3 separate regions of the Homo sapiens genome follow, and all the other regions are linked to region 3. The links come from fine-mapping of genetic effects on gene expression. A gene starts in region 3. Each other region holds a variant in brackets. All regions are shown on one strand. Distances are from middle to middle.

Evidence for each region. PIP is the estimated chance that this variant, and not a neighbour inherited with it, causes the effect. A credible set is the group of variants that fine-mapping cannot tell apart.
Region 1: its variant is the best candidate, but not a certain one, in a credible set for the expression of CERS3 in whole blood (TOPMed, PIP 0.55).
Region 2: its variant is the best candidate, but not a certain one, in a credible set for the expression of CERS3 in whole blood (TOPMed, PIP 0.72).

The regions. Positions count from the first base shown.
Region 1 is chr15:100,555,545-100,561,372 of GRCh38, forward strand. LOC102723335 (a long non-coding RNA gene) reads left to right here and starts at 3,122. Exons shown (of 3, transcript NR_135693.1): 1 at 3,122-3,278; 2 at 3,769-3,901; 3 at 4,091-4,255. It also overlaps the pseudogene PRKXP1 and the pseudogene RNU6-181P. The variant C/T (reference allele first, on the strand shown) is at 3,294.
Region 2 is chr15:100,547,382-100,553,209 of GRCh38, forward strand. It overlaps the pseudogene PRKXP1 and the pseudogene RNU6-322P. Among named protein-coding and RNA genes, the nearest start is that of CERS3, 21 kb to the left of the region's middle. The variant A/G (reference allele first, on the strand shown) is at 3,417.
Region 3 is chr15:100,526,549-100,532,376 of GRCh38, forward strand. CERS3 (ceramide synthase 3) reads right to left here and starts at 2,402. Exons shown (of 12, transcript NM_001378789.1): 1 at 2,265-2,402.

The sequences.
Region 1 (5,828 bases), 29 kb after region 3:
ATGACTTCCTTCCAGACGCAGATGAGGGACGGGTGGATGATTCCTTCAGGACGCAGATGAGGGACGGGTGGATGACTTCCTTCCAGACGCAGATGAGGGACGGGTGGATGATTCCTTCCAGACGCAGATGAGGGACGGGCGGATGACTTCCTTCAGGACGCAGATGAGGGACGGGCGGATGACTTCCTTCCGGACGCAGATGAGGGACGGGCGGATGACTTCCTTCCAGACGCAGATGAGGGACGGGCGGATGACTTCCTTCGGGACGCCGATGAGGAACGGGTGGATGATTCCTTCAGGATGCCGATGAGGGACGGGCGGATGACTTCCTTCCAGACGCAGATGAGGGACGGGCGGATGACTTCCTTCGGGACGCCGATGAGGAACGGGTGGATGATTCCTTCAGGACGCAGATGAGGGACGGGCGGATGACTTCCTTCCAGACGCAGATGAGGGAGGGGTGGATGATTCCTTCAGGACGCAGATGAGGGACGGGCGGATGACTTCGTTCCAGACGCAGATGAGGGACGGGCGGATGATTCCTTCCGGACGCAGATGAGGGACGGGCGGATGACTTCCTTCCAGACGCAGATGAGGAACGGGCGGATGACTTCCTTCAGGACGCAGATGAGGGACGGGTGGATGACTTCCTTCCGGACGCAGATGAGGGACGGGTGGATGACTTCCTTCTGGACGCAGATGAGGGACGGGTGGATGATTCCTTCTGGACGCAGATGAGGAACGGGCGGATGACCTCCTTCCGGACGCAGATGAGGGAGGGGTGGATGATTCCTTCCGGACGCAGATGAGGGACGGGTGGATGATTCCTTCAGGACGCAGATGAGGGACGGGCGGATGACTTCCTTCCAGACGCAGATGAGGAACGGGCGGATGACTTCCTTCAGGACGCAGATGAGGGACGGGCGGATGACTTCCTTCCGGACGCAGATGAGGGACGGGTGGATGACTTCCTTCGGACGCAGATGAGGAACGGGCGGATGATTTCCTTCCAGACGCAGATGAGGAACGGGCGGATGACCTCCTTCAGGACGCAGATGAGGAACGGGCGGATGACCTCCTTCCGGACGCAGATGAGGGACGGGCGGATGACTTCCTTCGGACGCAGATGAGGGACGGGTGGATGATTCCTTCCAGACGCAGATGAGGAACGGGCGGATGACCTCCTTCCGGACGCAGATGAGGGACGGGTGGATGACTTCCTTCCGGACGCAGATGAGGGACGGGCGGATGACTTCCTTCCAGACGCAGATGAGGGACGGGTGGATGACTTCCTTCCAGACGCAGATGAGGGACGGGCGGATGATTCCTTCAGGACGCAGATGAGGGACGGGTGGATGACTTCCTTCCAGACGCAGATGAGGAACGGGCGGATGACTTCCTTCGGGACGCCGATGAGGAACGGGTGGATGATTCCTTCAGGACGCAGATGAGGAACGGGCGAATGACTTCCTTCGGGACGCCGATGAGGAACGGGTGGATGATTCCTTCAGGACGCAGATGAGGAACGGGCGGATGACTTCCTTCGGGACGCCGATGAGGAACGGGTGGATGATTCCTTCAGGACGCAGATGAGGGACGGGTGGATGACTTCCTTCCAGACGCAGATGAGGGACGGGCGGATGACTTCCTTCCAGACGCAGATGAGGGACGGGCGGATGACTTCCTTCCAGACGCAGATGAGGGACGGGCGGATGATTCCTTCAGGACGCAGATGAGGGACGGGCGGATGACTTCCTTCCAGACGCAGATGAGGGACGGGCGGATGACTTCCTTCCAGACGCAGATGAGGGACGGGCGGATGATTCCTTCAGGACGCAGATGAGGGACGGGTGGATGACTTCCTTCCAGACGCAGATGAGGAACGGGTGGATGACTTCCTTCGGGACGCCGATGAGGAACGGGTGGATGATTCCTTCAGGACGCAGATGAGGAACGGGCGGATGACTTCCTTCGGGACGCCGATGAGGAACGGGTGGATGATTCCTTCAGGACGCAGATGAGGGACGGGTGGATGACTTCCTTCCAGACGCAGATGAGGGACGGGCGGATGACTTCCTTCCAGACGCAGATGAGGGACGGGCGGATGACTTCCTTCCAGACGCAGATGAGGGACGGGCGGATGATTCCTTCAGGACGCAGATGAGGGACGGGCGGATGACTTCCTTCCAGACGCAGATGAGGGACGGGCGGATGACTTCCTTCCAGACGCAGATGAGGGACGGGCGGATGATTCCTTCCGGACGCAGATGAGGGACGGGCGGATGACTTCCTTCGGGACGCCGATGAGGAACGGGTGGATGATTCCTTCAGGACGCAGATGAGGAACGGGCGGATGACTTCCTTCCAGACGCAGATGAGGAAAGGGCGGATGACTTCCTTCAGGACGCAGATGAGGGACGGGCGGATGACTTCCTTCCAGACGCAGATGAGGGACGGGCGGATGATTCCTTCCGGACGCAGATGAGGGACGGGCGGATGACTTCCTTCCGGACGCAGATGAGCGACGGGTGGATGACTTCCTTCCAGACGCAGATGAGGGATGGGCGGATGACTTCCTTCCGGACGCAGATGAGGAACGAGCAGATGACTTCCTTCCGGACGCAGATGAGGAACGAGCAGATGACTTCCTTCCAGACGCAGATGAGGGACGGGCGGATGACTTCCTTCCGGACGCAGATGAGGGACGGGCGGATGACTTCCTTCCGGACGCAGATGAGGGACGGGCTGATGACTTCCTTCCGGACACAGATGAGGGACGGGCGGATGACTTCCTTCCGGACGCAGATGAGGGACGGGCGGATGATTCCTTCGGGACGCAGATGAGGGACGGGCGGATGACTTCCTTCCGGACGCAGATGAGGGACGGGCGGATGACTTCCTTCCGGACGCAGATGAGCGACGGGCGGATGACTTCCTTCCGGACGCAGATGAGGGACGGGCGGATGACTTCCTTCCGGACGCAGATGAGGGACGGGCGGATGACTTCCTTCCGGACGCAGATGAGCGACGGGCGGATGACTTCCTTCCGGACGCAGATGAGGAAGGGATTCCTTCCGGACGCAGATGAGGGACGGGCGGATGATTCCTTCCGGACACACCTCTCAATGTGCACGTGCTGCTCCTGCCAGGCGGATGACATCAGGAATGCTCATCAACTTGAGGGCGAAGAAATGCTTGGCGGTCTTCTCCTTCACCGGGTGCACCCGCCCGAACGTCCCAGTGCCCACGGTGGCCAGTGTGTCGAAGTCCTGCAGGCGGTGGGCAGGCGGCTC[C/T]GGCGACCAGGCCTTGGGGCTGGGGCAGAATGCGGGTGCCCAGCCGGGGGTCTCCTCCCACACCTCTCGGGGGTCGCTCTCCGCCACGGCCGCCTGGGCCAGTCGGGGCTCCTCCATGCGGACACACTCAGGTCCGGGGCACCGGGCCAGGCCGGAGCGCTCGGGTAGCCGGGCTTCCCGGGACGCAGCCTCGGAGGGCGGCGTGGTGGTGGCATCAACGGAGGCTCCCCATGCGTGCCCTCGCCTCCCAGCGCGCGGCCCGGCGCAGCTGACAACGCCCCCGGGTGGGAGCAGCTGCCGGCCTCGTCGGGGGGTGGGCACTGAGTGCCGCGCAGCAGCGGGGAAGATGGGGCCCGTGGCCCAGGCTGTGGGGGCAGGGAGGGGGCCCTGCGCATTCCCAGTCTCGCGCCCGCCGCCTCCTCCAGCTTGGTAGCCGCCAGCGTGCTCTACGGTGTTTTTGTTTGTTTTTTACCAGCTGATTCACAACTCAAGTAGCACAGTGAAGGTGGACAATTTGGACTGCCTAAGCATCCCAGCATCGTCTGTTCTACATATCACTATTCCAAATGGCATGCTGCTGTGTTTGTGAATCCAGCCTCCCACATTGGGTATGTCACCATTGGCCTATAACAACTGGAATGACACATCTTCACTAGAGGCAGGCCTTGGCCATCCTCCACAGCAGACTATTGAGTAACAAAATAAGCAGTACTATTTATTTACTTCTTACTATGCTGTTTAAAAAAAAAGCCTCTGATGAAATCCTGGTGGCTTCTTCTCTGTTCTTACCAATCCAGGAAGTGTAGAGAGCTGTTGAGCCCTGTTTCCAAATCCCCAGGTGAAGCTGCGCTGACATGCCTTCTGTCCATACAGCCCTTTCCAAGACTCAGCTATTTGTGATCACCCCCAAATGTTACCCTGATTCTATTACCAATTTGTAATAAAACTCACTTGTATGGTGGAAAGGCTGTTGCCAATTAATTTTATTTTCGTCACCCATTTTCCCTTCCATGTAATCGTCAAATTGTTTATTGTACATATTAAAAATGACACACAATCAAGAGGGCATATGCTATATTCAAGCAAAGAATGCTATGTGAGCCACGCGTGGTGGCTCACGCCTGTAATGCCAGCACTTTGGGAGGCCAAGGGGGGTGGATCAATTGAGGTCAGGGGTTTGAGACCAGCCTGGCCAACACAGTGAAACCCCATTTCTACTAAAAATACAAAAAAAAAAAATACCCGGACATGGTGGTGCACGCTTGTAATCCTAGCTACTTGGGAGGCTGAGGCAGGAGAATTACTTGAACCCAGGAGGTGGAGATTGCAGTGAGCCAAGATTGCACCACTGCACTCCAGTCTGGGCAACAGAATGAGATGCCATCTCAAAAAAAAAAAAAATGCTATGCGATACAAAAATGATGTACTTGTCAATAGTCCAGTGAGTCAGGGGAACCCTTTCTCTTTATTGTGGAGAAAAATAGCACAATCAGAAAAAAAATTAAAAGATAATTTTCAGGAAAACTGACAGTTAAAAATCCAATTCTGTTTTACACAAGTAGTCTTTTGTGTTTTGCAGAAAAACAAATATCTGTTGATTTGGAGATGGACAATATATGGTCCTTAGCAAATAAAAGAAGTTTAGCTGTGGGGAAACCTGCACTTCCTCATAATTTATTGAATAGCTTAAAAAGATGTCATCAGCAATTATAAGTGTGCTTCTGGGGTGCTTACTTCACAGGCCTCAAAGGGAGAAATGAGTCTGACAGGAGGCTTGAGGCACTTAAAAAACACACAGACATTCTGATTGCCACCCCTAGAAAGTGCCTTTTTTTTTTTTTAAAGTTACAAAATATGAAATGCTTCATAAATTTACATGTCATCCTTGAGCAGGGGCCATGCTAATCTTCTCTGTATCATTCCAATTTTAGTATATGTGCTGCCAATATAAGCATAGAAAGTGCTTTTCAGATGGCCAGGCACAGTGGCTCATGCCTGTAATCCCAGCACTTTGGGAGGCCTAGGTGGGCAGATCACCTGAGGTCAGGAGTTAGAGACCAGCCTGACCAACACTAAGAAACCCTGTCTCTACTAAAAATACAAAATTAGCTGGGTGTGGTGGTGCATGCCTGTAATACCAGCTGCTTGGTAGGCAGAGGCAGGAGAATTGCTTGAACCCAGGAGGTGGAGGTTGTGGTGAGCCAGGATAGTGCCATTGCACATTTTTCAGGTAAAACCATGCTTCAACTCTACTGCCTTCAATGATTGGGTAGGCTCTACCAAACAGCAAACACCTGAGCCATTCTCACTGGAAAGAAAATCACAGGCAGATCACATTCCATATCTCAATGCTTCTAAATATCAGAGAACTGCTGGGACAGTGGTGTGTGCCTGTAATCTCAGCTACTTGGGAGGCTGAGGCAGGAGGATCCTTTGAGCCCAGGAGTTTGAGACTAGTCTGGGCAACATAGTGAGATTCCATTGCAAAAAAACAGTATGTGAAGTAAATTTAAAATAAATATCAGAGAAGTGTAC
Region 2 (5,828 bases), 21 kb after region 3:
GATACAAAAGTTAGCTGGGTGTGGTGGTGCACGTCTGTAATCCCAGCTACTCAGGTGGCTGAGACTGAATTGTTTGAACCCAGGAGGTGGAGGCTGCAGTGAGCTGAGATTGTGCTACTGCACTCCAGCCTGGGTGACAGAGTGAGACTTGGTTTCAAAAAAAAGAAAGGCAATGATTTAAAGCAGATATATTTTCCAAATAACTATAAGAGAGAAATACAAATCACTAACAATCCATATGCAACCCAAAAGAAAACAAAGGAAACACTACAATAAAATGACAAATATGTAATTTATGACAAGAAAAATTATTTAAGAGGTTACACCTATGTATGTTTTACTTTAATAAAAAGGAAGAAGAGGCAAAAGCTTGTCACTTGTGTTTGTAGTATAAAATTCATTTATTATCTGCTACTTATAAATAATCAGACCAAAGAAATTACACCAAAAGGTTTAGACTAAGAGTCACATAATGTAGCGGTGGAACCTCAAAGCCTGGCCTTGGATTATCCCAGTGCACTTTCCTCTACATGCTACAGTTTTTTTTTTCTTAAAAGATACAAAGCTTTATTAAACAAACCTGGAATCAACATTATTACATAAATTAGACTGCAGTAAAAATTTCCTAGGGCATATATACAAATCACAGTGATTTCCATGGTGCAACAAACAGACAAGATTAAAAATAGGCACTCCCCTCCCCGACCCCCCATGAGAAGGCGAGATCACCCCACAGGGCTCCCAGTTCCAGCTCGCCAAGGGGTGCACAAACCTGCAAAGGCACTCTGCTTGTGTGCATGGCATCTGGCAGCAGTCACAGGGGCCCCAGAAGCACATTGACAACATGGTGAGGCTGCCCAGTGTTCAGCACAAAAAAAGAATTCAGCTACGACAGCTGAGCAGAGCTCAACAGCCATCTCAGAGCACAAGGACTGTGGAAAGGCTTCAATTCCCATCCGCTAAAACACACATGTAATGCCTTGTACATACAGAACAGATGTGTCCACCATGGAAGATCAAACTAAGCATCAACAGAACTTCCCAACACATGATAATTTACAGAGAACTGTGACAGGGCATCCTCCTTTTATTAGCAAGGACTGTTCTGCTGGGTGTAAGGCCATAAAGTTTGCAAAGCAAACTTGATTATGAAAAGGCTTGGTGAGAACACGGCCCCCACCTCCACCAAGACACACACACACACGCACACACCCCAAATAAATTATCCAAATGCATTAAGACACCTGTTCTTGTGCTTTTCTTCTTGCTTTTGTTAGGTGAATCCCGTCCGTTTAAGTTAGACTAATTAGAAGGCCTTCTTGCCTCCATCAGCAACAGAGAAAAACAGTGCATAAGACTCCTCCAATGTGTGTAAAATGCATGCTAGGTAGGTTGAAGGAAAAACGAGAGGAACCCGGGCACCCCATTTCAAATCTCTACAACTGGAGAAATCAAAGGCTGCAAGGACTGTGTAGACCTGATGCAAAGTTAACTGGCTGCAAAAATACAACCCAAGCCAGTGCTGTCTTGCACCCTGTTCACTCAGTAGCTGGAGCAATGAATGATTGTGACATTCTGGTGTGATATTTGTGCAGCCTGAGGTACACCCTGGCTACAGAGTTGAGCCTTGGGGTCTTTAACAGTATTAAGCCATGGTTTCACAGTTACAGTGGTCCAAAGAACTAGAGGCCATGTAGGTCAAACACAGAAATGGCGAACACATCCCAAACCACTCAACTGTTTAGTTCCACTGGTGATTTTTTTTAACGGGTAGTGATTTCAAATGATTTGGTGGGTGGTTTTTTGTTTTGTTTTGTTTTTTCTTTTTCTTCAGAGCAAACAAATGATTTGGTCTTTAAGTATGGAGAGAAAAAAACAAAACGCTGAACGAGAAATTCACTAACAAGTGACTGTGCAGTTGTTTGAGGGCATGGAGAGGGAATGGGGTTGACAGCATTTTGAGGGGATGAAGTGCACGATCTTACCCCACTGCTGGGGGGTTTCTGATTCTTATTCTATCATGCTGACAGCAAATATAATTTGCCCATCGCTGGCTATAGATATGTTTAGGCTAAGCAGGATTTAGACTTCTGTTGGGAAGGAATTAGAAGAATTCAGTAGAGACAGTGTATACTATTTGGTTGTGACTTTATTTTCTTCCTGGTTTTATCAATGCCTATGAAAGCAGGCTGGTGGCTTTTCCCTTGAGAAAAACAAGACTTGCCCCACTATACTTCCTATTGTGGCATATCCATTTCCTAAAGATATTATCTTATAGTGTTCCAATTTAAGAAAATACTTCCAACTCATAAAATTACATGAAACAAAGTACATTTGTAATTTTTTTCTGATACAAATTTTGTGATTATCGTGATGAATTTTCCTCCACATTTAGCACAGTGATTGTTTCACGTGATCATCTATGCGGAAATTTTGGAATGCCCACCCAGATAAACTATTTTTATTTTTATTTTTTGAGATGGAGTCTTGCCCTGTCACCCAGGCTAGAGTGCAGAGGCACAATCCTGGCTCATTGCAGCCTCCGCCTCCCGAATCCAAGCGATTCTCCTGCCTCAGCCTCCTGAGCAGCTGGGGCCACAGGCACCCACCAGCATGCCTAATTTTTGTAGTTTTAGTAGAGATGGGGGTTTCGCCATGCGGGCCAGGCTGGTCTCGAACTCCCAACCGTGGGTGATCTGCCCACCTCGGCCTCCCAAAGTGCTGGGATCACAGGCGTGAGCCACCATGACGGGCCAGGTAAACTATTTTAAAATTATACATAGTGATTGTTCTATGTTTATAGCTCATTTTGATTAAATTAACCTCTACAGGACATTGGGCCATTTAAACTATGACCCCGCCATGGGGCAGTTACCAGGTAGCCTGTCTCACTTCAAATGTTGAAATGTGCATGATGGTCAAAAGTGGGTTTCACACCATCACACGTTCTTGGAAGTGCTTCTAATTTCTCATTTGTTCTGTATGGCTAGAGGCTGATTACAATGTCCGTAAAGAACAAGGTCATCAATGTGCTTTGCATATTTCATTTTCATGCATATCTGTTTGTTGCGGGAAGTCAGGGACCCCAAACGGAGGGACCGGCTGAAGCCATGGCAGAAGAACGTGGATTGTGAAGATTTCATGGACGTTTATTAGTTCCCCAAATTAATACTTTTGTAATTTCTTATGCCTGTCTTTACTGCAATCTCTAAACATAAATTGTAAAGATTTCATGGACACTTATCACTTCCCCAATCAATACTCTTGTGATTTCCTATGCCTGTCTTTAATCTCTTAATCCTGTCAGCTGACGAAGATGTATGTCACCTCAGGACCCTGTAATAATTGCATTAACTGCACAAATTGTACAGCATGTGTGTTTGAGCAGTATGAAATCTGGGTACCTTGAAAAAAGA[A/G]CAGGATAACAGCAATTGTTCAGGGAATAAGAGAGATAGCCTTAAACTCTGACTGCCGGTGAGCCAGGCGGAACAGAGCCATATTTCTCTTCTTTCAAAAGCAAATGGGAGAAATATCGCTGAATTATTTTTCTCAGCAAGGAACATCCCTGAGAAAGAGAATGTGCGCCTGGGGGTGGGTCTCTGAACTGGCCCCCCTGGGCGTGGTCATCTCTTATGGTCAAGACTGCAGGGGTGAAATAGACCTCAGTCTCCCATAGCGCTCCCAGGCTTATTAGGAAGAGGAAATTCCCGCCTAATAAATTTTGGTCAGACCGGTTGATCTCAAAAACCCTGTCTCCTGATAAGATGTTATCAATGACAATGGTGCCCGAAACTTCATTAGCAATTTTAATTTCGCCTCGGTCCTGTGGTCCTGTGATCTCACCCTGCCTCCACTTGCCTTGTGATATTCTATTACCTTCTGAAGTACTTGATGTCTGTGACCCACACCTATTCGCACACTCCCTCCCCTTTTGAAAATCCCTAATAAAAACTTGCTGGTTTTTGTGGCTTGTGGGGCATCACGGAACCTACCGACATGTGATGTCTCCCCCGGACGCTCAGCTTTAAAATTTCTCTCTTTTGTACTCTGTCCCTTTATTTCTCAAGCTGGCCGATGCTTAAGGAAAACAGAAAAGAACCTACGTGAATATCGGGGCAGGTTCCCCAGTATCTGTTCACAATTAAGGCAAGGCATTTCAGGCTTTTCCTGATGCTAATTTTCATCTCAGTATGAAATCCTGGATTACAAAACAGGCAACCTAAAAATAGGCATTTTTTAGTACATGGACTTATGGGTCTATGTACTTTTTAAAGTGTGCTCAAGAATAGTGTTTCATTTATGGTTTTATTAATAATTTTTAAAGCAGAATTTTCAACAATATTATTACTATGATTTATTTTTATAGTCAGCAAACACGAGACTTCATGCTCTTCCTTCTAGCTGCACATCTCGGTGCACAGTGTAACCTTTTTTAAAAAAAAATATGGAATGCGGCATGAATCTGGATCTTCCTTGCACAGGGGGCCATGCTAATCTCCTCTGTGTCATTCTAATTTTAGTATACCTGCCGCTGAAGTCAGCACCAGTTTCACCTTTTCACATTCACGGTAAAAATTATGGGAAACTGCATGTGAAATGTTTAGAAAATGATGGCCCTCAACTGTTAATCCCAACAGGATGGTGACTGAGACACACAGGCTGAAAATACAGCTGTCTAAAACATTTCCACATTTCATCATCTGAACATCATTTTCCACTAAGTTATTAATTGTAAAGACTTTATTCTACTGAACCTACTAATTATTCTCACCTGCTGAGTTGACCACCACGTGAAGAAAAGGTCATTAATGAAAAAGGGTGGCTATGTTCTGTTTCTGCAGTTTCACTGTGTTTTAACATTTTTTTCCTTTTATAGAGATGGGGTCTTGCTATGCTGCCCAGGCTGGTCTCAAACTCCTAGGCTCAAGCAATCCTCCTGCCTTGGCTTCCCCAAATCCTAGGATTACAGGAGTGAGCCACTGCACCCAGCTTCATGGTCTTTTAAAGCCTTAAGGTGGATGTGTCTTCATTCCACCTTTCATTCCACCTTCAAAAGCACAAAGCCATTGCCTTTTTTTTTTTTTTAATTTAGACAGGGTCTCACTCTGTCACCCAGGCTGGAGTGCAGTGGTGTGATCTCGGATCACTGCGGCCTGGACCTCCCCGGGCTCAAGTGATCCTCTCATTTCAGCCTCCCGAGTAGCTGAGACTATAGGCAAGCGCCACCATGCCCGGCTAATTTTTTTGTATTTTGTAGAGAGATGACATCTCACCATGTTTCCCAGACTGGTCTCCAACTCCTGGGCTCAAGCAATCCACCCACCTCAGCCTCCTGAAGTGCTGGGACTACAGGAACAAGCCACTGCGCCCAGCTTAGATGAAATTTTTGAATGTGACACAGGTTTTTTAAATACAGTATATTCCTCCAACAACTTCAATGTCATTGTAGATTCTTGGAATAAATTCACTCCCATATCTTCTTCTCTTTGTTTCTTCTTTTAAAGTCTCAAGTTACCAGGTAGGAAGCACTAAAGATACTGAAGATGGACCTCCCCATGATGTTTTCTTCACCCAAACTAAAAAATGCATGTGAGATGATTTTTTTAAATCCATGCAACAGACCCTTCAGATGTTGTCCCCAAGAGAAGAGATTTTTGAAAAAACAAATTGAAAAATAAAAATTATAGGCTCTGTGAAGTATGAACATTTACATCATTGCACAATTTCTGTGGATCTGCCATAATGACTTCTATATATACACACAGGCGCGCGCATGCACACACACACACACACACACACAATTTGTGGTTATAATTGAACAAGTCCAG
Region 3 (5,828 bases):
CTTTTGAAAAAGAAGTATCTGATGTTCTTGCTTTTTGCTTGATTTTACTATGCTTTGGGGGACTTTTGGCATAGGACATTCATTACTTTAAGAGGCTGTTTGAAAGCTGGATCAGCTCCACAAAGAAAGATAATCACAAAGTGATTTCCCAAGAAAGTACACTAGGATATAAGGAACAAGTACCAGTGGAAAGGCAACTCCCTGAGGGCAGGGACTTGTCTGCTTTGTTCACTGGTGATACCCCCAATCCTAGAACAGGATCCAACATGTCAAGAGCATGAAGAAATCACTGCAAAATGGGGAAATGAATACTGTTTACCAAGGGCCTACCCTCTGTCAGGTCCTATGGAAGGCATTTGACATACCCTGCCTTTTTATGTCTTATAATAAACAACCTCGTTTGATGGATGTTATAATAATTATTTTATAAATAAGGAAACTGAGATTTGAAGAATTGCACTGAGGCCAGGTGTGGTGGGTTATGCCTGGAATCCTAGTACATTGGGAGGCTGAGGTGGGCAGATCACTTGAGGCCAGGAGATCGAGACTAGACTGACCAACATGGCGAAACCCCCATCTCTACTAAAACTACAAAAAAATTAGCTAGGTGTGGTGTCACATGCCTATACTCCCAGCTACTTGGGAGGCTGAGGCACGAGAATCGCTTGAACCCAGGAGGCAGAGGTTTCAGAGAGCCAAGATCATGCCACTGCACTGCAGCCTCAGTGACAGAGCAAGACTCCATCTCAAAAAAATAAAAAAGGAATTTCAGTGACTTGCCAGGGTCATAGTTAGTAAGCAGGATGCAGGAATTTGAATTTTGATCTGTCTTTCTAGTCAATGTTCTGTCCACCACACCAAGCCTTCCTCCAACAGCAGAAGCAGGTGATAGATTGATTGATTGATTTTGGCCTTTTGTTATAAGACACCAAATTCGAGTATTTGAATATTATCATAGCTTCAGGAATCCCTCCACACAAGGACCCTGTAGGGGGTTAATGGAATAGAATGGGAATATAGAATGAGCTGAAATCATATATCTTAGTGTGCAGAAATGCAATAAAGCTGTGGCTTTCTCACATCCCTACTGTACCACTGTAAATCTCACTAAGCCTCAATTCCTCGTCTGAAAGTGGCGTATCATGAGCCCTAAAGGGGAAAATGCACGTACACACAGCAAGGACTTAGTAAATGTAGATTATTATTAGCCCAGAATGATCTTCAAACTTATGTAAATCAATTTGATTGATATTTTAGAAAAAGGCAGAAATATTGTGAATGAGAGGGCCACATAATTATTACCTTTTTGAACATATACATATTTTCTCTTTAAAGAACTTTTTATCCAGAAATTCTACTGAAGAAATTATAAATGGAAACCCCTTTTAAGAAAAACAAAAGGCTTGTAGGGGGGAAGGCAATGAAAATGTGAAGTTTAAAGTCAAACACTCACTTAAGGTAGAGAAGGCACTTGAACATTGTGGGTTAATGAATAAATTAAAATTCATTATCTGGTCAGCCCTAAAGCTTTATTTCCCTTGTTTTGTGTAAAGGTTTCAAAAAAATAAAAATGCTTAACAGAACATTCTTGCTAAACATTTGCTTGGATCAGAAAAAGTAGTTTGATTTTGTTTCACTTTTCTGCATGAGACTGGCAGCCTTAGAACCGAACAGCTAATTTCTCCTGGCATGACATTGAGCACTACATCTCTCAAGACAGAAGCAGCTTAGGAAGGCCTGCCACTGTGGGGTGAGCAAGTCCCACCTTGTTCTCAGCTTAAGGCACTCTGGGATGGTCTGAAATGGCCTTTGCCACCTGGCAAAGATCTGTGCTGACCCCTTTCATTCCACCTGGATTCAGGGCTTTCCTGATAAACCAAGCTATGCTGAGCATTCAGCCGTGTGTGATTTCACTGCCCAGACCTTTCTTCCTAACCCTCAATGAATCAGTTTAAACTCGCCCGAGAGCAATGCAGGTCAGGAGTGGAAGTTTGGACTCGAAATTTACCCTCTACTACTAAACACTTCCAAGCAAAACTCTACAAAGCAAAGGGCCCCAAGTCTGTCTTTTCTGTATTTCTCCCAAACATCAGACCAAAAATGAACATTTCTTCATTTGTCCGCCTCTCCCCCAATCTCCATCTCCTCTCCCTCTCTGTTACGCACCCAGGCACACATACACACACAAGCTCACACGCGGAATCACGGCCACCTTGGTTTTGAAAGTCCTCAAATACTAACCACATCCATGGGATGGCGCCTACCTTTCTGAAATGTCAGTCCACAAAAGGTGCCCCTTGCTTGTGAAGTGTAGTCAGAGAGCAGCTTCCAACGTTCCAACCAGCTTCGTTCTCCTCAGAGAGCAGCACAACTCATCTCTGTGTAAGACCTGAAATTCCTTCAGAGACCCACCCTCCAAAGTTGCGAGTCAAGATTTCTGACTGAGGGCAGTCAGTGACGTGAGGCGAAGCTACTGGATGGCACCCTCAGGTTCTTCCTGATGGGATGTTGCTTCCTGTTTCACCACCTTGAGAAAAGAAAGCTGGAATTCAGTGAGACATTGAGTTACAAATGCATCAGTTGCCTCATCGTTGTTGCCTTTTGGTGCACACAGTCATCTGTCAACTGCTGAACAGGATGATCTTGCTGTTTGTATTAAAAGGAAAGGGCTTATGCGCAGAGAGAACCCCAAAACACCAGTCACAACCCTGTACTGTCCTAGGAGCTGGTTCGACAAGTATAGTACTCTCCAGAAAACAGGCAGGGCTTCTTACTAACTAAATCACCACCATGCCACAAAACTCATCCACTAAGGAGCATTGGTCCACAGGAATGTGATTTCTCTGCCCGCTTCCTAGGAATTGAGAAAACGATCAGTTTTTTGAAGCATATAACTGCCAAAAAATACAATAGTCTGGCAATCTTTTCTTCTTAGAACAGTCAGATATAATTCGCATTTTTATTTGTTTGTCTCTAAGAACAATCATCATAGACAAAGACAGACAAGCTCATTAGTATCAGGAAATAAACATTGTTGCTTGTCTCTGTGTGCTTGAACCACTACAATTTCAAAGGCAAGTGTGGATGCATTTTATAGTGTTTATTTGAGATATTGTACCTTTGAAGCCATTTTCACTTTCTCTTGCCTGAAGATGAAACAACTCTGGGCTTGGATTATTTAAAGGTGCTCTGACAAGTAGAGAGCTTCAACAAGTTGATTCCTGTATCTCTCACAAACCAAACATCAGCAGTACCGCCCACACTGAGAGCCTGATTCTCATTAGCTGTCTTCAACTGCTGAAAGACATTTTTCTTTTTTCATCAGCTAATAGATGACCGCAAATTAAAAATGGACTAGATGCAGATAAAGGGAAACACCAGTTTCAAATTCATTAAAGCTCCAAAGTTTCTCAGATTTCACTAATGAATTTAGTTCAAAGAGAGAGGATTGATAAACGCCCTTCCTTTCACTGGGTACTTCTCACTCAGGGCTTCCCGGTCTGCCTTTCTCTTCGAAGACGTTCTGTTTTTCAGTAATGGGCTCATGCATTTTTAAAACCATCTGGCAGAAGGGATGAATTTAAAGCAGACTTGGCCACTAACCGAGGTAGGCTCAGTTCAGGTCTGCCTCACCTTCTGCCAGGAGACCACTGCAGAATTGGTTTCCTGACATGAGGCTTCCATCTTCATCCAATTGTCACCTAACTCACATTCCCATTCTCATTTCTTTTTCTTCTGCTGATTAAACTCTACCAGCCACCTTCTACCTATAGGATCAAGACCAGACTCCTTGGCACAATGGCCTGCTCGCAACCTGCTGCTCCAGGACTTCCTTTTGCCCTTTCCCACTAGATTCCAGACACAACAGTGGGCAGCTTCTGGGCCCTTGCCATGAGCTGCTCTCTCGCCTCTGTGCCTAATGAAAGTCTGAATCCTGCTCAAGCTTCCCTAGCCTCGGCCCTCTCTGTTCTGTGGGTATACCTTTATTGCAACACCTACTACTCTATCACAACTTAACTGATTTTTGTATCTGCTTCCCCACTACTTTGGGAATCCTCACTGGACAAGCCTTAGATCTCTTTCTACCCCTGGAGCTCAGCTGTTCAATACTGGTCAAACAATTAGTACCCAAAATAGTGATCATCCAACACTCATTTTCACTCCGGGGATATCTCGGGAAAAGAATGTCCTGAACCCTATTTTGGACTCTCTTACTCAGAATTAAACAAGCCAAAAGAATATTGGGGAACCAGGCTGGGAACAGTGGCTCACACCTGTAATCCCAGCACTTTGGGAGGCCGAGGTGGGAGGATCCCTTGAGGTCAGGAGTTTGAGACCAGCCTGGCCAACATGGTGAAACCCTATCTCTATTAAAAATACAAAAAATGAGCTGGGCATGGTGGTGGGCGCCTGTAATCCCAGCTACTCGGGAGGCTGCGGCAGGAGAATTCCTTGAACCCAGGAGACAGAGGTTACAATGAGCCAAGATCACTCCACTGCACTCCAGCCTGGGTGACAGAGTGAGACTCCTGTCTCAAAAAAACAAAAAACAAAAAACAAAAAAACCAATATTGTAGAACCACATGTTTTCATGCTTTGTTTTAGTTACTTCTACAATGAAACACATGTTATTTGCTGATAAAATATAATGTTCAAATCAAATCGGAACTATTTAGACATAGTTCTATAACTCCTGTTAATCAAAAGAACCCCGTCAGCATCTGCTGTCTTTTTTGAGTCACTGTCAAGGTGTAATTCTTCCCCCTTCTTCAGGGGCAAGATGTAAAAATGAGGCTATTGCACAACTTGTGCTAGAGGAATGAGAGTGAGGAACTCGGAGGGTTTGCTGGTGAAGACTTTGTGGGAGCTGTGGGAGTGAGGAACTCGGAGGGTTTGCTGGTGAAGACTTTGTGGGAGCTGTGGACCTATGTGTAAGTCTAGTCATCTCCACAGCTCCTCTGAGGAAAATAACCCAGGGCAGGAAATAGGCTGTGTGTGGAGTTGAAAACAAAGCAAATATGGTTATCTCAAGGATTCCTAAGGTGATTCCTTTTTTCTTCTCTTTCTTACTTGTGCCTCACCATAAATGTATCAGTGCATTGCTAAGAGAAAAGATAGAACCCCAGGAAGCATTAAAGGAAAGAGCAAGATGCATGCACGTGGGTATCATTTCTCCTAGGTAGTACTTAGCTGTTTCCTTTTATGAGAAAACGGAAGCAGTGAGTTGAGACATTAAATCAGTTTTATATTGCGAATCCTCATTAATAGATATTAAATCACTTATTAGCATGTTAATGATTCATTGCATTTTAAAAAGTGAACGTCGGACCTCTGACAAATGAAATGTAGACAATTAAGCATGACAGTGGAGAGGTGTTGTCGGGAGCAGTAGGGGTGCATTACAAAGCGGGTACCGGGTGCCTTTCACCTAGTAAATTGGGAAGGAGAGGGATAGGAGAAGTGTAGACCAGAGACAAACCCAGTCAAGGTTCTGGAGAGCCACTTAGGAACTAGAAGAGGAAAACACAGTAAGCCGGATGCAGGAAAATTGAGTCTGGGCGCCAGCAGCAAGACACAGTGCCAAAAGCTCTCCTAGCCAAGGGCAGAGGTCCCACAGTTGCATGGGTGTAGATGGGGAAGAAGGGGAAGCGGGCAACTTCTAAGCTGCATTTTATGCTTTCAGCCGATCCTTAACCTAATTTCGTAGAGAAGAAAACGTAAGAATCAACAGGCTTTTCCCTCAAAGGAAGGAATCCCTTCCAAGAAACTTAACATATACAGTTTTTGCCCTATTGTTCTTAACCTAACCGGCAAAATTTTTGAGATTT